2 separate regions of the Homo sapiens genome follow, and region 1 is linked to region 2. Evidence: fine-mapped expression QTL. Tissue or cell type: whole blood. Region 2 holds a variant in brackets; the other region holds the start of a gene. All regions are shown on one strand. Distances are from middle to middle.

Region 1 (8,092 bases), 37 kb after region 2:
GTAAGTCCATTAATTCTCTTTTTCATCCCAGTCTCAGGTATGTCTTTATCAGCAGCGTGAAAACGGACTAATACAGGCATCAAGGCACCCACAGGCTACTCTGGGGAGACTGATGTGTCAGCCCATTAGTGCAATAAGCAGGGAAGCTCTGTCCAGGGAAGAGTATGTCTGGGGGCCCAGAAGGGGTGGGTTAGGTAAGGCTTCAAGGTGATTCAGGCTCTGAACCATGAAAAGAGAGTTCAGAGTTTACCAAGTGGACTGGAAACAGAGTGTTCCAGGCTGAGAGTGGCAGGAGCTGGGACAAGGAAGTGTGGCACAGCTTCCTTGTGGAGAGAAAATTGGAAAAGTGCAAGACAGGCCCAGGGACCAGTTACAGTGGCTTGGTGAGAGAGAAGATGGCTGAGGCAGGACTGGTGGTGGTGAGATCAAGTGACAACACAGGAGGTAGAACTGATGAGCTCCCTAATTTGAGACCAGGTGCTGTATCTCACGCATGTAATCCCAGCACTTTGGGAGGCTTGAACCCAGGAGTTTGAGACCAGCCTAGGCAACATAGCAAGACCCTGTTTCTTCAAACACACACACACACACACACACACACACACACACACACACAAATTAGCCAGGTATGGTGGTGCACACCTGTGGTCCCAGCTACTTGGGAGGCTGAGGCAGGAGGATGGCTTGAGCATGGGAGTTCGAGGCTGCAGTGAGCTATGATCATGCCACTGCACTCCAGCCTGGGTGACAGAGGGAGACCCTGTTTCTAAAAAAGAAAAACAAAGATCTAATTTGGGACCATGAGTGGCACTCACTTGCCATGTCCTGTTAGCCTGGTCCCTGGATGCCTGTGTGAAGGGAGACAGCCTCATAAACCAGTCCACTGGCCTGGAACTCATGCCCTAGCAAGAAGTGCACTTCTGTTGTATTTGAGCCATTACATTTGGAATCTATTGGTCATTGCAGCAGAACTTACCTTCATTAATATAGCCTCTCCCTAGCTGGGAACACTATACCAAATCATGTGTTGGGGGAGAGAGGAAGAAACGAGGATATTCCTCTCTTCTTTGAAGCTTACAAATTTCGTTGGAACTACGTATGGAAAAGGAGAACATTTACCAGGCTCTTCAGATCTAAGAGTTGCCTGTTCTTCGAGTGGGCATACTGCCTCTGTTTCTCTGGGCTCCTGAGATGACCCAGTACCTTGGAGCTCCTCCAGCCCTGGGAGCCAGCAGAAAAGCCACCTGTTGTCTGTAAGGAAGTACCCACAGGCCTGGCTGAGCTCATTACAGCAGAGAGCCAGCAACGCTTCCTCCTCTTAGATTCCGTCATGTTAGACAATCTGCCTGCTCTCCCCACTAACCGTCAAAGTTCCATGGAATGAACTTGCCACTTTTTCAGGATCCTAACCACCGCACTTTCCTGCTACCTCTGGCACTTGGAATTTCAGAGACAAAACCCCTTTTTTAGGCAGCGAGCCCTGATTTTCAGTTCCAAAGCTATGGGCACTGCTGAGTGGGACCAGAGGAGTGGTGTGCAGTGAGCTACCTGGAGGGGTTGCATGAGACCATGTCCCCTCTCCTGGATGGAGGTGTCTTCTGGTTGCCAAGAAAGTATTGAGTGATAATCAGAAAAATTCCTTGATTTTCATGGTTTGTTGCTTTGTAGCAGGTCTTAAGGAAAAAAAAAAAGTTTTTCATGGTTTGGGACAGGTCCTTAGAGATGGGCCACACCAGCCCTGGCACACCTGAGCCCAGTGTTGGGCCACCTCACACCTCTCTCGCCTCTCTTCCAGCTTTATCTTTGTCCTGCTCTTTCTGGAGTCCTTTCCTTGCATCCTGCCAGCTGGCATCCCCTTCATCCTTGCACGCCTACCTTCTACACAAAGCCTTCCATGACCATCCCAAGCCTCAGGGCTGATTCCGTGCAGTGGGCAGGCTGTAGCCTCTCTGTTCACCTCTCTGTGTCACATCTTACTGGGTACATGCCCAGTAAATTCCCCACAACTGAGATTCTGCTTTGCCTGAGCAGTGCCCTCTGGCTCCTTAGGGATGATGCTTGCTGAGGGGTTTCCTGGCTTTAAGGTCATGGTTCAGGCTGGGCTCAGTGGCTCACACCTGTAATCCCAGCACTTTGGGAGGCCGAGGTGGGCAGATCACTTGAGGCCAGGAGTTTGAGACTAGCCTGGCCAACATGGTGAAACCCCGTTTCTACTATAGCCGGGTGTGGTGGCAGGTGCCTGTAATTCCAGCTGCTTGGGAGGCTGAGGCATGAGAATCGCTTGAGCCTGGAAGGTGGAGGCTTCAGTGAGCCGAGAGCATGCCACTGCACTCCAGCCTAAGCGACAGAGCCAGATTCGTCCCCCTACCCCCCAAAAAGGGGTCATGGTTCAGACCTCCATTGTAGGCCCACCCCCTTGCTTTACTAGCTGAGGGACCTTGCCTAAATTCTTTAGCCTCTAGGAGCCTAAATTTCCTTATCTGCAAAATGGAGATTAATAAAACTTACCTTGCAGGACCTTTGTGAAAAAAACAAAAACAAACAAAAAAACTTGAGAAGTCATTCAAAGCACTTAGTTCGTGATCAATAAATATTAGCTTATTGTTTTTCTAAGACGATGAGTAGGATTTTTCATCAAAAATAAATCATTCTGGTTGCCTTGGGCAAAATAATCTGCAATATAAAATATCTATAATAAATGGCTGCTGTGTATTCATTGCTACTGTGTGCCAGGCACCATGTTAAAACACTTTATAAAAATGATCTCATTGAGGCCTTTCCACAACTCTTTTTTTCTTTTTTTAGAGATGGAGTTTCGCTCTTGTTGCCCAGGCTGGAGTGCAATGGCATGACCTCCGCTCACTGCAACCTCTGCCTTCCTGGTTCAAGTGAATCTCCTGCCTCAGCCTCCTGAGTAGTTGGGACTACAGGCATGTGCCACCATGCCAGGCTAATTTTTTGTAGAGACAGTGTTTTACCATGTTTGCCAGGCTGGTCTCGAACTCCTGACCTCAGGTGATCCACCCACCTCGGCCTCCCAAAGTGCTCGGATTACAGACGTGAGCCACCGTGCCTGGCCCTTATCCACAACTCTTAAAGTAGGTGCTAATATTTGCAGTAAGTAGATGGAGATGGCTTATCTTTCGCTGAGTTAGCTTGGTCTGATTTGAGCTGGCAATACACTGCCTTCCAGGTCATTGTCCTGCCTGTGGGTCTTTGCACATCCAGACCACACTTCCTTCCTCTTTACCTAAATCTACCTCTTTCTCATCCTTGGAGAGAAGTATTTGCACCCTTCCTTTGCCCTCAGTCTTTCTTTTTTATTTTTTCATTTCATTTCATTTATTATTATTATTATTATTATTTTTTTTTTGAGACAGAATCTCACAGTCACCTAGGCTGGAGTGCAGTGGAATGATCATGGTTCACTGTAGCCTCAAACTCCTGGGCTCAAGCAATCCTCCCACCTCAGCTTCCCGAGAAGCTGGGACTACAGGTGTGCACCAACAAGCCCGGCTAATTTTTGTAGGTCTCGCTATGTTGCCCAGGCTGGTCTCCAACTCCTGGGCTCAAACGATCCTCCCGCCTTGGCCTCCCTAAGTGCTGGGACTGTAGGCATGAGCCACCGTGCCTGGCCATGCCCAATCTTTCTTACTGCAGTTGGTGATACATGGTTTTTGTTTTCTCTATACATGTATTTTTTGGTGGTGTGTTTAATATCTGTCTTTTCCCAGACTGTCGCCTCCGTGAAAGCAGGAACCTTGTCAGTTTTCTCTCCAAGTTATCCCTCCAACGCCTAGCACAGTGCCTGGCAAATGTAGGAGCTCAACAGGGTTTGCGGAATTATTATGTGTATGTCTGAAGGAAGGATGTTGGCAGTGCGCCCAACGTGTGAGGGGAACCCCACTCTCCAAGGTTCCAGTGGCTTTAAAGGTGTCCTCGAGAAAATCAGAGGAACAGGGGGATGCTTGTTTTCCTTCCTTCCTTCTCTCTCTCTCTCTCTCTCTCTCTCTCTCTCTCTCTCTCTCTCTCTCTCTCTCTCTCTTTTTTGCTTTAAAGTATGCTGAAAGGACACTTTAAACCAAGTCTGAATGGCTCGGCAGGACTGGGGCGCGGGTGCTGGCAGGAGCCGGAGAGGCGACATCTGGCCATGGGAGCATTTGTTTCAAAGTTCAAGGCCGTTCGCTCAGGGTCAAGGTTAGTCCGGCGGGCCGTTCGGAGACCAGCCCCAGCGTGCCAGGACCGTTTCCGGGGCCTGGCCGGGGCGTTGCCGCGGGGTCGGGGACCAGCACGAGTGCTGAGTCACGCCCCGCCCGGGAGCGCCTCGGGTCAGTAACTCGGGAAGACGACCAAGCGGGAGCGGGAGCGGGAGCGGGAGCCGGAGCGAGAGCGCGCGGGCGCGGCCGACAGGTGAGATCGCGCCGCCAGGCGGGCTCTCGAGACCCCGGGCGCCCCGGGCGGGACCGGGACCCGGAAGAGGGGCGAGCGGATTAGAGGCCTGGCTCACGCCGCGTCTGGCGTGGGGAGGTCGGTGCGCGCAGTTGTGGCGCTGCGAGGAGAGGGATACTCGACTCAGGCCCGCCCCTCTCTGTCTCCCCCAAAAAACGCAACAGGGAGATGTGCTCCTGGCCGAGGGCAAAGAAAACTCCACCCTCCTGGTTTGGCCCCTAAATCCCTGCTAAGTTTTCCTAAGGAAGATGGGCTTAGGCCGGGAAGGGCGAACCGGGGAAGAGGGAACACGGGGCGGGTGTAACCCGGATCTTGCGAGGACCGTCCGAGGGTCCGCTGGGTAGAAGCGGCCGGTCCGGACAGAAGCAGGTGTGAGAGGAAAGGGAGAAACCTCAGTCTCTAAGAGGAAAGAAACTGGAGTCAACCCAGTGCCCATAGGCTCGGGGGAGCTGGGGGGTGCAGCACTAGGAAGTCTGCTTCTCCCTTCCCGAAGCCCTGGGTGCTGCAGGGACAAAGACCAGCGGTGAGTAAACTAACTCTGATGGGACGCGTGCAGTCCACCTGGAACTGAATTAGTGGCCTATATTGGGGCTCTCCTTCCAACACCACCTGATCAACACACCCTACCTTTCCCTACAAGGAGAGTCTTTTTGACCCTGGAATTTAAGGTGAGGATGGGGAGTGGTGAGGTCTCTTGGGGGCTGATGATCCTGTAGGAGGACAGGCATAGGGCAGAGAGTCAGATATAGTTTGGGATGGGACTTGCAGGTTTCTGGACTGTGCACCTGTGTTCAAAAGCCTGTATCAGGTTCCAGTGTGCGTGCATGCACCTGCCAGAGAGCCCCGGGATCTCAGATCACACCTGCCCTCACCCCAGCACCTAGAGAGGAGTTCTCCAAGGAGCACAGTGTGTCACCAAGAAGAGGGCACTGAGCCCCAGCCAGGGTGGGCTGGGCAGGCTTAGCACTACCTAGCCCAGAAGTGATGGGCTGGGCAGGCCGGTGGACTCCAGGGCCAGCCTGACTTTTGTCTGGTGGCCAAATGAAGCCAGCGTCCAGGTACAGGTGGTGGGCAGACCATGGGGACCACAAAACTGGCTCTGAGGAGGATGGACAAATTGCTTGGCCTAGGTTTTCTGTGCGGGAGTGAATATGACATCCAGATGAACCTGTCTGCCCCAGAGCTGCCCTCCCCTGGGGATAAAAGGAGGCTGCCTCCCTTAGACTTTGAGTCCCTTTTCAGAAACTGGTCTTTTGGGGGTTCTGTTCTTCAAGTAGTCCCTGAGGGGCTGGCCATGGAGTGTCCCAGGAAGGGAGGCCGCCCAACCGTCTCCATCCTGCTGTGTCCCGCAGGTGGAGGAAACCTCCATGGTGCTGTGAGTCGTGCTGTAGTGGCCTTCTTATCCGGGACGGCCACTCTGGGAATGTGGCTCTCCAGAGGCTGATGTTGAAACCTACCCTTTGTGTGAGCCATGACGACTCAAAAAGCATCGTGTTTTATTTGTAATATTTGTGAAGCAATACTGGAGCAACTCTGGGATGACATTCTTGCTTTGATCAGAGCCCACACGGTTCCTGCTGTGTGTCTTCTGAGGCACAACCTCTGAACAGCTTTGGCATAAATGTAACTTCCTGGTTTTTCAGTAGTCCTATGGGCTGCTTATTGTGGAATAATACCCTTGAGATCAGGGTGGATGCTCTTGGCAGAGAAAACAGGATTGACTGAGCAAATTTTTGTGTAAATCAGATTGTGTGTGTGTGTGTCTGTGTGTATGTGTGTTGTGGCAGGGAGCAAAGGTAAAGTTACTGAGGGGTTCCTGGACAATCAGGGTTTGTTCCGCTCTCTTAGGCCTTCTTTTAAGCTAACATTCTTGAACCTAGACAGACATAGTTAAGATTCTCTGTGATTCCCACTGGGGCTTTGGTGTTCAGTTCAAAATCAGATGGTGGATTTAGCAGTTCCTCAAAAAGTTAAACTTCAAGTTACCATATGACCCAGCAATTCCATACCTAAATATATACTAAAGAGGACTGAAGACTGGTTCACACAAAAACCTGTACACAAATGTTCATAGTGGCGTTATTCACATAGTCAAAAGGTGGAAACAACCCAAGTGCCCGTCAGCTGATGAGTGGATAAACAAAATGTGGTCTATTCATACACCAGTAATGGACTGTTTTTCAGCCAGGAAAAGGAATGAAGCACTGATAACATGCTACAACTCGGATGAACCTTGAAAACATGATGATCAGTGGAAGACGTCGCAAACAAAAAGCCACATAGTGTATAATTCCATCTACATGAATTGTCTAGAACAGACAAATCTATAGAGACAGAAAGAACATTAGTAGCTACCCAGGGCTAGGGTAGGTGGGGTACAGGATTTATTTTGGGGGTGATGGAAGTGTTCTGGAATTAGATAGTTGTGATGGTTGCACAACCTGGTGAATACACTAAAACCCACTGAACTTACATCTTTTTTTGAAATTTAAATTAAAAAAAATTTTTTTTTGAGACAGAGTCTTGCTCTGGCGCCCAGGCTAGAGTGCAGTGGCATGATCATGCCTCACTGCAACCTCGACCTCCTAGGCTCAAGCGATCCTCCCACCTCAGCCTCCTGATATCAGGGACCACAGGCATGTGCCACCATGCCTGGCTAATTTTTGTATTTTTTGTAGAGATGGGGTTTCACCATATTGCCCAGGCTGGTCTGGAACTCCGGAGCTCAAGCAATCTGCCTGCATTGGCCTCCCAAAGTGTTGGGATTAGAGGTGTGAGTCAGCCTACATCTCATTTTTTTTTTTTAAAAGATGGGGTCTCATCTAGGCTGGAGTGCAGTGGTGCAATCATAGCTCACTGTGAACTTACATCTTAAGTGGTAAATTGTATATGTGAATTCTATTTTGATTAAAAAATTAGATGGTAAGCGGTCTGTCCTATTATTAAAGACATTATTTCTGCAAAAATGACATATGCTTGTTTGAAAAAAATTCAAACAATACAAAAGCTTAAGGAAGAAAATGAAAACATTATCTATGACCACTATTAGCACTTTGGTTCAGACAGCAGGTTTGATGTGTTGAGAATTGAACTTGGGCAAGTTGTTGAACTTTTTTCCAAAATAAGGAGAAAAAACTCATACCTTAAATCGAAGATATGGGCAAAAGTGCAACAGATGCTAACTGCTGTAATCATTACCTGTATATGTGTATACATACCGAGGTGGATGTGTCTTATTGGCCATAAATGGGATTAGATCTTTCATGTGGTTCTGTGGCCTGACTTTTTGGGACTGGGCAAACTAATCTGCAACATATATTTTATATATATATATATAAAACGTGGCTGCTGTGTATTCATTGCTACTCTGTGCCAGGCACCATGCTAAAATGCTTTACGTAAATGATCTCATTGAATCTTTTCTACAGCTCGAAATCACAGTGGCTTACCCCTGTAATTCCAGTGCTTCGGGAGGCTAAGGCAGGAGGATCCCTTGAGGGGCTAGGAGTTCAAGATCAGCCTAGGCAACATAGTGAGACCCTCATCTCTACAAAAAAAAAAAAAAAAATTAGCCAGCTCAGGAGTTCAAGGTTATAATGAGTTATGATCATGCCACTGCATTCTGGCCTGGGTGATAGAGCAA
Region 2 (8,094 bases):
CACCTGGGTGGGGCCTTTCTTGACTTCTGTATTTGATTTAGTTAATTAATTAATTAATTTAGAGACAAGGTCTCGCTCTGTTGCCTAGGCTGGAGTGCAATCATGGCTCACTGTACCCTCAACCTCCTGGGCTCAAGCGACCCTCCTGCCTCGGTCTCCCAGTGTTGGGATTACAGGCATAAGCCACCATGCCCAGTCTGACTTCTCTATCTGAAACAGCCTTCCCACCAATAAACTGGTGAACTTTTGCCAATCTGACAGGTGAAAATGGTATCTCAGTAAGTTTCAAATTTATCTTTTATTTTTTAAAATCTATTTCTATTTCAGTATAGATATAACTATACAGAGATACATAGACAAATAAATGGATTTATATATTTTCTATATCTATTATTCTATAATATCTATATTTATATTTTCTATAGTATCTATATTTCTATTACTATTTTATTATGCTTGAGTCATTTTTGGGCCAGGCGCAGTGGCTCATGCCTGTAATCCCAGCACTTTGGGAGGCCTAGGCGGGCGGATCACTGGAGGTTAGGAGTTTGAGACCAGCCTGGCCAACAAGGTGAGACCTCATCTCTACTAAAAATACAAAGACCATGTCTACTAAAAATACAAAGATTAGCCGGGCTCGGTGGCTCATGCCTGTAATCCCAACTATGCAGGAGGCTGAGGCAGGAGAATCGCTTGAATCCTGGAGGCAGAGGTTGCAGTGAGCCGAGACCGCCACTGTACTCCAGCCTGGGTGACAGAGTGAGACTAGGTCTCAGAAAAAAAAAAAAAAAAGAAAAGTCATTTTTATTTCCTTTCCTATGAATTATCTGTTCTGAACTGTTGCCTATTTTCCTATTGTGTTGTTAGTCTTTTTCATACTTCTTACTTGCCTATGATGTGATTATTTTTCTCAACTTGTCATTTGTCTGAGTTTGCTTATGGTGTCATGATTGTTGTTATGCCATATAAGTTTTTAATTTTTATGTAGTTAAATTTGTCAATCTTTTCTTTTATGGCATCTACATTTTCTTTTCTTTCTTTTTTTTTTTTTTTTTTGAGATGGAGTCTCAGTCTGTTGCCCGGGGTTGGAGTGCAGTGGTGTGATCTCGGCTCACTGCAACCTCTGCCGCAGGGGTTCAAGCGATTCGCCTGCCTCAGCCTCCCAAGTAGCTGGGATTACAGGCGCCTGCCACTACGCCTGGCTAATTTTTTGTATTTGTAGTAGAGATGGGGTTTTACCATGTTGGCCAGGCTGGTCTCGAACTCCTGACCTTGTGATTCGCCAGTCTCAGCCTCCCAAAGCGCTGGGATTACAGGCATGAGTCACCACGCCCGGTCTAGATTTTCAATCATACCCAGAAAGGTCTTCTCATTGCAAAATTATAAGGAATCCATGCTTTCTTCTGTTTTTCTAGTACCTTTATAGTGTCATTTCAAAATACACACATCTTTTCATCACTTGAAACTTGTTTAGAGTAATAAACTTTTGGAGATTCAACCTGTAGGTTTTTTTGACTACCCAATTGTCTCAACCCCTTTTATTATTTATTAATTTATTTAACAACACATAACAGAATCATTTATTGAAAACAGTACTCTGGAAAAACTATGTGCACAACAATGCCTGTTTCACCCATTTTACAGTGGGTACATGGTGGTCTGGGGCATTCGTCAACTTGCTCAAGCCTTTAGGTAAGTAGAGTTTGCGGCTTTTCTGAGAATCTGCCTGCATGTTCCCTCCTTCCCCAGCCTCCCAAGCCATCCTGTGGTTCAGACACCTCCACCTCGTGCAGCCAGGCTCTCAACAAAGCCAGTAATCCAATGTGTTGGCTTGCACTGGGCTTGCATCTGTGTCTCCAGGATGCACAAGGGGTTCCAAGCCCCATGGACACATTGTCCCTGGTTTAGCTAAAGCTGGTGAGAAGCCTCAGAAGTGGCCTGACACCTTTCTGTGACAGGACAGGGTTCAAATTCAACATCTAAGACCCCAGGATGAGCGGAGGGTAGAGGGTGGTGAGCTTGCCCACTCAGCTCCCTGAGTATTGCTGGAGTCCCAGGTGCTACTTTAGTTTTATTTCTGCATGTACTTTAGTCATTTCTGTACTTTGCTCTGTTCCATTGTGTTTTTTGTGTGTGTGTGTTTGTGCATGTGCACGCACACCAGTTTTAATAACTTAGGCTCTATAATATGTTTTAATATCCAACAGGGTTAGTTCCCACCTCCTTGTTCTTCATTTTGAAAGCCTGTTTCTGGACTAGTTTTGTTTGGTTTTCTATACGAATTTTAGGAACAAATAGGGTAATTAAAAAAAAAGAACGAAACCACACACGACCTATTAATCCTATTAGTACTTTTATTGGGATTATGTTAAATTTAAATTTTACTAAAGGAGAATTGAGATCTTCATGAACCCACAGACGTCATTCATCTTTCCATTAGACTGTTTTATTTGTAAAATGAGAGTAATAATAGTACCAATCTCGTGGGACTGTCCTGAGAATTAAATGAGAAAATGCATGCGAAATATACTGGGGTGAACACGTTGCTTTGCCACTTAGCTGTGTGAACTTGGGCATGGTAGGTTATTCTGAACATTGCTCTCTCATTTGTCAATAAGGATAATACTAGCATCTGGAGTCACAGGACTCCAATGACGGTGAAATTAGACAAAGCGTGCAAAGTACCCAGTGCTCTGCCTGGAACATAAGTGCACAATAAATATTAGCTGTTTTTCTGTTTTTCTAAAACATAGGCCACCCCAGGGCAAGGAAGTGCGACTCAAAGCAAAAGCAGCTGGGCGCGGTGGCTCACGCCTCTCATCCCAGCATTTTGGAAGGCCGAGGCCAGCGGATCACTTGAGGTCAGAAGTTCGAGACCAGCCTGGCCAACACGGTGAAACCTGTCTCTGTAAAAATACAAAAAAATTAGCCAGGTGTGGTGACATGCGCCTGTAGTTCCAGCTACTCGGGAGGCCGAGGTATGAGAATCGCTTGAATCCGGGAGGTGGAGGTTGCAGTGAGCCGAGATCGCGCCACTGCACTCCAGCCTGGGCGACAAAGTGAGACTCCGCCTCAAAAAAAAAAAAAAAAAAAAAAAAAGCAAGGAAGAAAAAAAGCAAAA[G/T]CTTGGAGGGATCCACCTCAAGTGGAGGGCCCCAAGGTCAACTCATCTTTCCCAGGACCTATGTCACCGTCGGTACCCACTTCTGACTTTCCTGGTGCGTCTGGAATGGGAAGCCGCGATCCCGAGTGTACCAGGCCGCTCAGGGACTCCAGGACCCAGCCCCGGACCCAGGGTTCCGGCGCTGCCACGTCTCGCGCGGTCAGCTAGCCAGACGGGAGCAGGCGGGGCCGAGGCGGGGCCAGACCCCGAGCGCGCTTTGTCACGCCTTATGCCCGCCCCTCCGCGGCCCGAGTCGCTGGTGGGACGGCACCGGGGCAGAGAGGCGTAACGCTGTGAGGGGGCGGGGCCCATTACGCGCCCGGAAGTCCCGGGGAGGGGTGTGACGTACATCCGGCGAGTAGCTGGCGGTCCCGGGTGCTGCTGGTTAGTGTGCTCTGAGGGAGGGTCCGAGCCAGCCGCTGTTTTGCCGGAGGAGCCCCTCAGGCCGTGAGTCTGAGGGTCGCGTCGGGGAGGGGAGTTGGGGCTCGAGGGGCTGGGACGGAAGGCGGGGAGGTCGGAGCGGAGGCTGGCCCTGGCGGGGTTGGGTGGGGGGGAAGTGACACGCAGGCGGTTCTGTGGGGCCGCGGGGCTGATTCTGGGCGGGGACGGGACAACTTGGCCAGATCTGCTCCGTCCCCTGCTGTCCTCTTTGCCTGGGGTCCACTTGCATTCCGCTCGGGGGTCTCGCAGCTGCTGGGCCGGATAACAGTTTCTTGTCTGTACCGTGCGCTCCGGTTTACGAAATGGCTCCATGTCCTCTGTCTCGGAAGAGCCTCACAGCCCTCGGTGAGGCGGGTGGGAGCCCTTTATGATTATCCTTGTTTTGTAGACTCGGAGACTGAGGCTGGCCAAGGCTCCGCAGTTAGCGAGTGTGAGCGCTCGAACCTGGTCTACAGGCCCCTAGTCCAGGGCTTACCCCCAAGTCAGCGCTTGGTTGTCTTCCGATGGCCCGGGTCGAACCCTGTATTTTCTCCTTCTCCCTTCCCCTTTTCCCCTGTCTGGTCTCTGCATGGAAAAATTTCCTTATGTGCATTTGACATGGATTAGCGTTTTCTTCACGATTCTAGCCAGTGGGTCAGGAGCATCTTTGTCTTGTTGATTCCATCGGCTTCGGTTGCGACAGGGGGCTTAGGGAGATTCGCCATGGGGCTGACCTTTGACATTTACCCCGCAGCTAAGCAGAGTTAGCTAAAAGCCAGCCGCCTACTACCCCAAATCTGCCTGGAATGGCGTCTTAAAGTTGCCCTGATTATGTATAACAAGTAATGCGTAAATTTTTAAATTGGCTAATGGTCAGATTGGTGCCCTCCTTTTCTATTAACATTTGTTTGAATCATTTAGCCCTGGAATTCGCAAGTTTTCATTTTAGGTACATTAATAGTGTTTTGTTGATAGTTTAGAGACCTACCTTAAATTTTAGATTACTCTTAACTTCTCGTAAGGTGGTACAATGGACCAAGAATAGAAAATAAATAGAATGCTAGTTATTAAAATACCATTCAAAAGATGTGATGAGTTGTAAGGAAGAGAACTTCGGAAGATCATCCTCTGTGTAGTTGGTGGGTTAAAGAAGTTTTAGTTTTTTTTTTTTTCCCCAGCAATTTTGTGGTTTGGGTTTGAATTTTATGTACTGTTAACAGGAAGAGCTTAGGCTTTGGTGTTAGAGATGAGGGTTTAAGCCCTGGCACTATTACTTTTTCAACTGAGCCGTCTTAAAGGACTCAGCAAAACTAGGAGTATCCTCATCTTTATCTTGTTAAATGAGGCCAGTGATCCTTGCCTGGTAGGGTTGGTGTGGGGATGAAATGAGATGTACAAGTACTGTGCAGATTGTAAAACTACTGATGAGTTGGTACAAATCCTAAGATCTTAAGGAGAGAGGAGCCACCAAGGCCATTTTCAGCTGCTGAGGAGGCTGAGGTGGGAGGATCTCTTGAGCCTGGGAGGTTGAGGCTGCAGTGAGCCATGATGGCAACACTGCACTTCAGCCTTGGAGACAGAGTCTTGGTCTGTCTTAAGAAAAGGGGGGCGGGGGCATTTTCTTAACTTTGGGTAGCAGTGCAACCCGACTCTTTGGATCTAGTAAGGGTTTTTATTATTTTTAGCTCACCTGAAGAGTTTCTTCAGTCAGCCTCCACTCTCATCACTCCTTTACAACCCAACACTTCTATATACATTTGTACTACACTGGTTTTCAGTCAATACTTTACAGACTTGTAAAAAATGTTTACATCACTTTAGAAATTTTTCTTTCTTTCTTTTTTTTGAGATGGAGTTTTTGCTCTTGTTGTCCAGACTGGAGTGCAATGTCATGACCTCGGCTCACTACAACCTCTGCCTCCCGGGTTCAAGTGATTCTCCTGCCTCAACCTCCCGAGTAGCTGGGATAACAGGCGCCCACCATGCCTAGCTAATTTTTGTATTTTAAGTAGAGATGGGGTTTCACCATGTTGGCCAGGCTGATCTCGAACTCCTGACCTCAGGTCATCCACTTGCCTCGGCCTCCCAAAGTGCTGGGATTACAGGCATGAGCCAAGTATTTTCAACTAGATGAATTCTGCAAAGGTGAAAAGGAGAAAATGCCACACTTTAAATAGTTTTTCATGGCAATTGAACTACTTTAATTTTCCATTTTATTTTCCTTTGACACTCCTGCTTTTAAGCCATCTCCTCCCTTGGAGCATACAAATCAGCAGCAGCCGGGATTTAGCTACTTGGATGCTTTAATTCTTCCCTCCAAAATGATCTGAGTGGGAATGACCTTAATGAGGGGTGTGCTCTAAAGGTGAGCTGTGCTTCTCCAGGCAGTAGATTGAGAAAAGTATAGGAGGATGTTTGGTTTGAGGGAGTTGCAGAGGAAGGGCACATTGTTCTTTTACTTATTTACAGTAAATGGGAATTTCAGCACAGGAGCTTTATTAAGTATATTTAAGTTGTTGGACTCCTTAAAGTGCGGACTCAATTTCCAGAGAAAACTATTAGTTAATGTGATAAATGCAGTCTTTCTGCTGAAATATATTTGTTATTGAAAAGGCAAAAAAGAAATCACCTCATTTAGTATTTTTTCGTAAGAGCCTAGTATGTATCCACCCAAACTGCCAAACTTTATTTGGCTGTCTTTGGTAAGGGCCGTGAAAAATAAATATTAATTAGGCCCTAAAATTTACAGATTAGGCCATGGGCCTGATAAAAACCCAGTAATTGGATGAAAAACATACCAGCTCTACTTTTCAATTTACTCTTTTTTTTTTTTTTTTGAGATGGAGTCCTGCTCTGTCACCCAGGCTGAAGTGCAGTGGAGCGATCTCCGCTCACTGCAACCTCTGCCTTCTAGGTTCAAGCGTTTCTCCTGCCTCAGCCTTCTGCATAGCTGGGATTACAAGCAAGCGCTGCCGCGCCCAGCTGTTCATTTTATTCTTCATCTGGCATTCTTTGAATGTAAGGGGATTTTTTTGTGGGTAATGCTTTTACTGGTTACTGTTCATGAAAATTTTGAATGCAGTTGGTCATATCTAGTATAAAGCCCTGTGTTCAGATGCTCCTGCTGATGGAGAGGAGTAAAAGTGTGGACCTTCCATTTTTCTGCACCGCATCTGAGATACTAAAGCAAAAATTCAGCATGGCCAGACAATGCTGAGAAACCTTAAGACCCACCAGTGTGTCTAGATCCTACCCTCTTAATTTCATTCAGAGGTCATTTTGCTTATTACCAATATATGTAAACCTTTTAGTAGCTTTTGATAGCTATGAGAAACAATAGAAAAAGTAGTGTTAATATCAGTACCAGTTAAGTTATTTACTGGCTTGGGAACTTACTGCTATATCCTGAAAAGTATTCTTTTTTTGCTTTTTTGTTTCTTGAGACAGGGTCTTGCTCTGCCACCCAGGCTGGGGTGCAGTGACACAATCATAGCTCACGGCAGCCTCAAATTCCTGGGCTCAAGCAATCCTCTTGCCTCAGCCTCCCAAGTAGCTGGAACTACAAGCACGTGCCACCATGCCTGACTAATTTTAATTTTTTTTTTTTTTTTTTGTAGAGATGCAGGTCTCTCTATGTTACCCAGGCTGGTCTTGAACTCCTGAGGTCAGGGAGGAATCCCCCACCTCAGCCTTGCAAAATGCTGGGATTACAGGTGTGAGCCACGGGGGCCCGGCCTGAATAAGTATTCTTATTTTAAGAAAATCTATTTGTAAAATGAGTTTGGGTGTGATTATTCATGTATGAAAAGATTCTCTTCTTATCCCTTAATGGTTCTCTAAAATAGTGATGTCATTTCTTTTTATAAATTGAGACCCGTGTCTGCAAAAATGATTAAATATTGAGATAACATTGGTAAATGGAGCAGGGCAAGTGGTGCTGGCCAGTAGAATTTTGGGTGACTTTTGTTTTTTAGAGTTGTTTACAGGATAGATTAATATGTTTTTCATTCAAATCAATGTGCTTTTCATTCTTATTTTCTATTTAGTGCATCTAAGTGGCATTCTGATTCACATTATTGATAAGACTGATTTCCTAGAGTTGTTCTTCACTGGATGACAGCAGTCGTATGTCTAGGGAATGTGAATGAACCGCTGCCTGGAGGAGTAAGTCACACAGTAAAAGAAAGTGTAGGCATACCTCGGATATACTGTGAGTTTAGTTCCAGACTACTGAAATAAAACAAGTACAGTAAAGCAAGTAACACGAATATTTTGGTTTCCTAGTGCACATAAAAGTTACGTTTACACTATACTGTAGTCTGTTAAGTGTACAGTAGCATTACGTCTTAGAAAATACGTACCTTATTTAAAAAATACTTTATGGCTAAAAAATGCTAACAAGCATCGGAGCCTTCTGCGAGTCATAACCTCTTTGCTGGTTGGGGATCTTACCTCCATGTTACTCCACGTTGATAGCTGTTGACTGATCAGGTTGATGATTGCTAAAGGTTGGG

Evidence for each region. PIP is the estimated chance that this variant, and not a neighbour inherited with it, causes the effect.
Region 1: it holds the start of AIFM2, and the variant in region 2 is fine-mapped to the expression of AIFM2 in whole blood (TOPMed, PIP above 0.99).

What each region holds. Positions count from the first base shown.
Region 1 is chr10:70,129,052-70,137,143 of GRCh38, reverse strand. It overlaps AIFM2 (AIF family member 2), which reads left to right and starts at 4,319. Exons shown (of 9, transcript NM_032797.6): 1 at 4,319-4,410. RefSeq lists silencers at 4,145-4,464, 4,297-4,506 and an enhancer at 4,028-4,528.
Region 2 is chr10:70,165,926-70,174,019 of GRCh38, reverse strand. SAR1A (secretion associated Ras related GTPase 1A) reads left to right here and starts at 3,506. Exons shown (of 7, transcript NM_020150.5): 1 at 3,506-3,607. RefSeq lists enhancers at 3,012-3,091, 3,225-3,881, 3,882-4,540 and a silencer at 3,222-3,581. The variant G/T (reference allele first, on the strand shown) is at 3,122.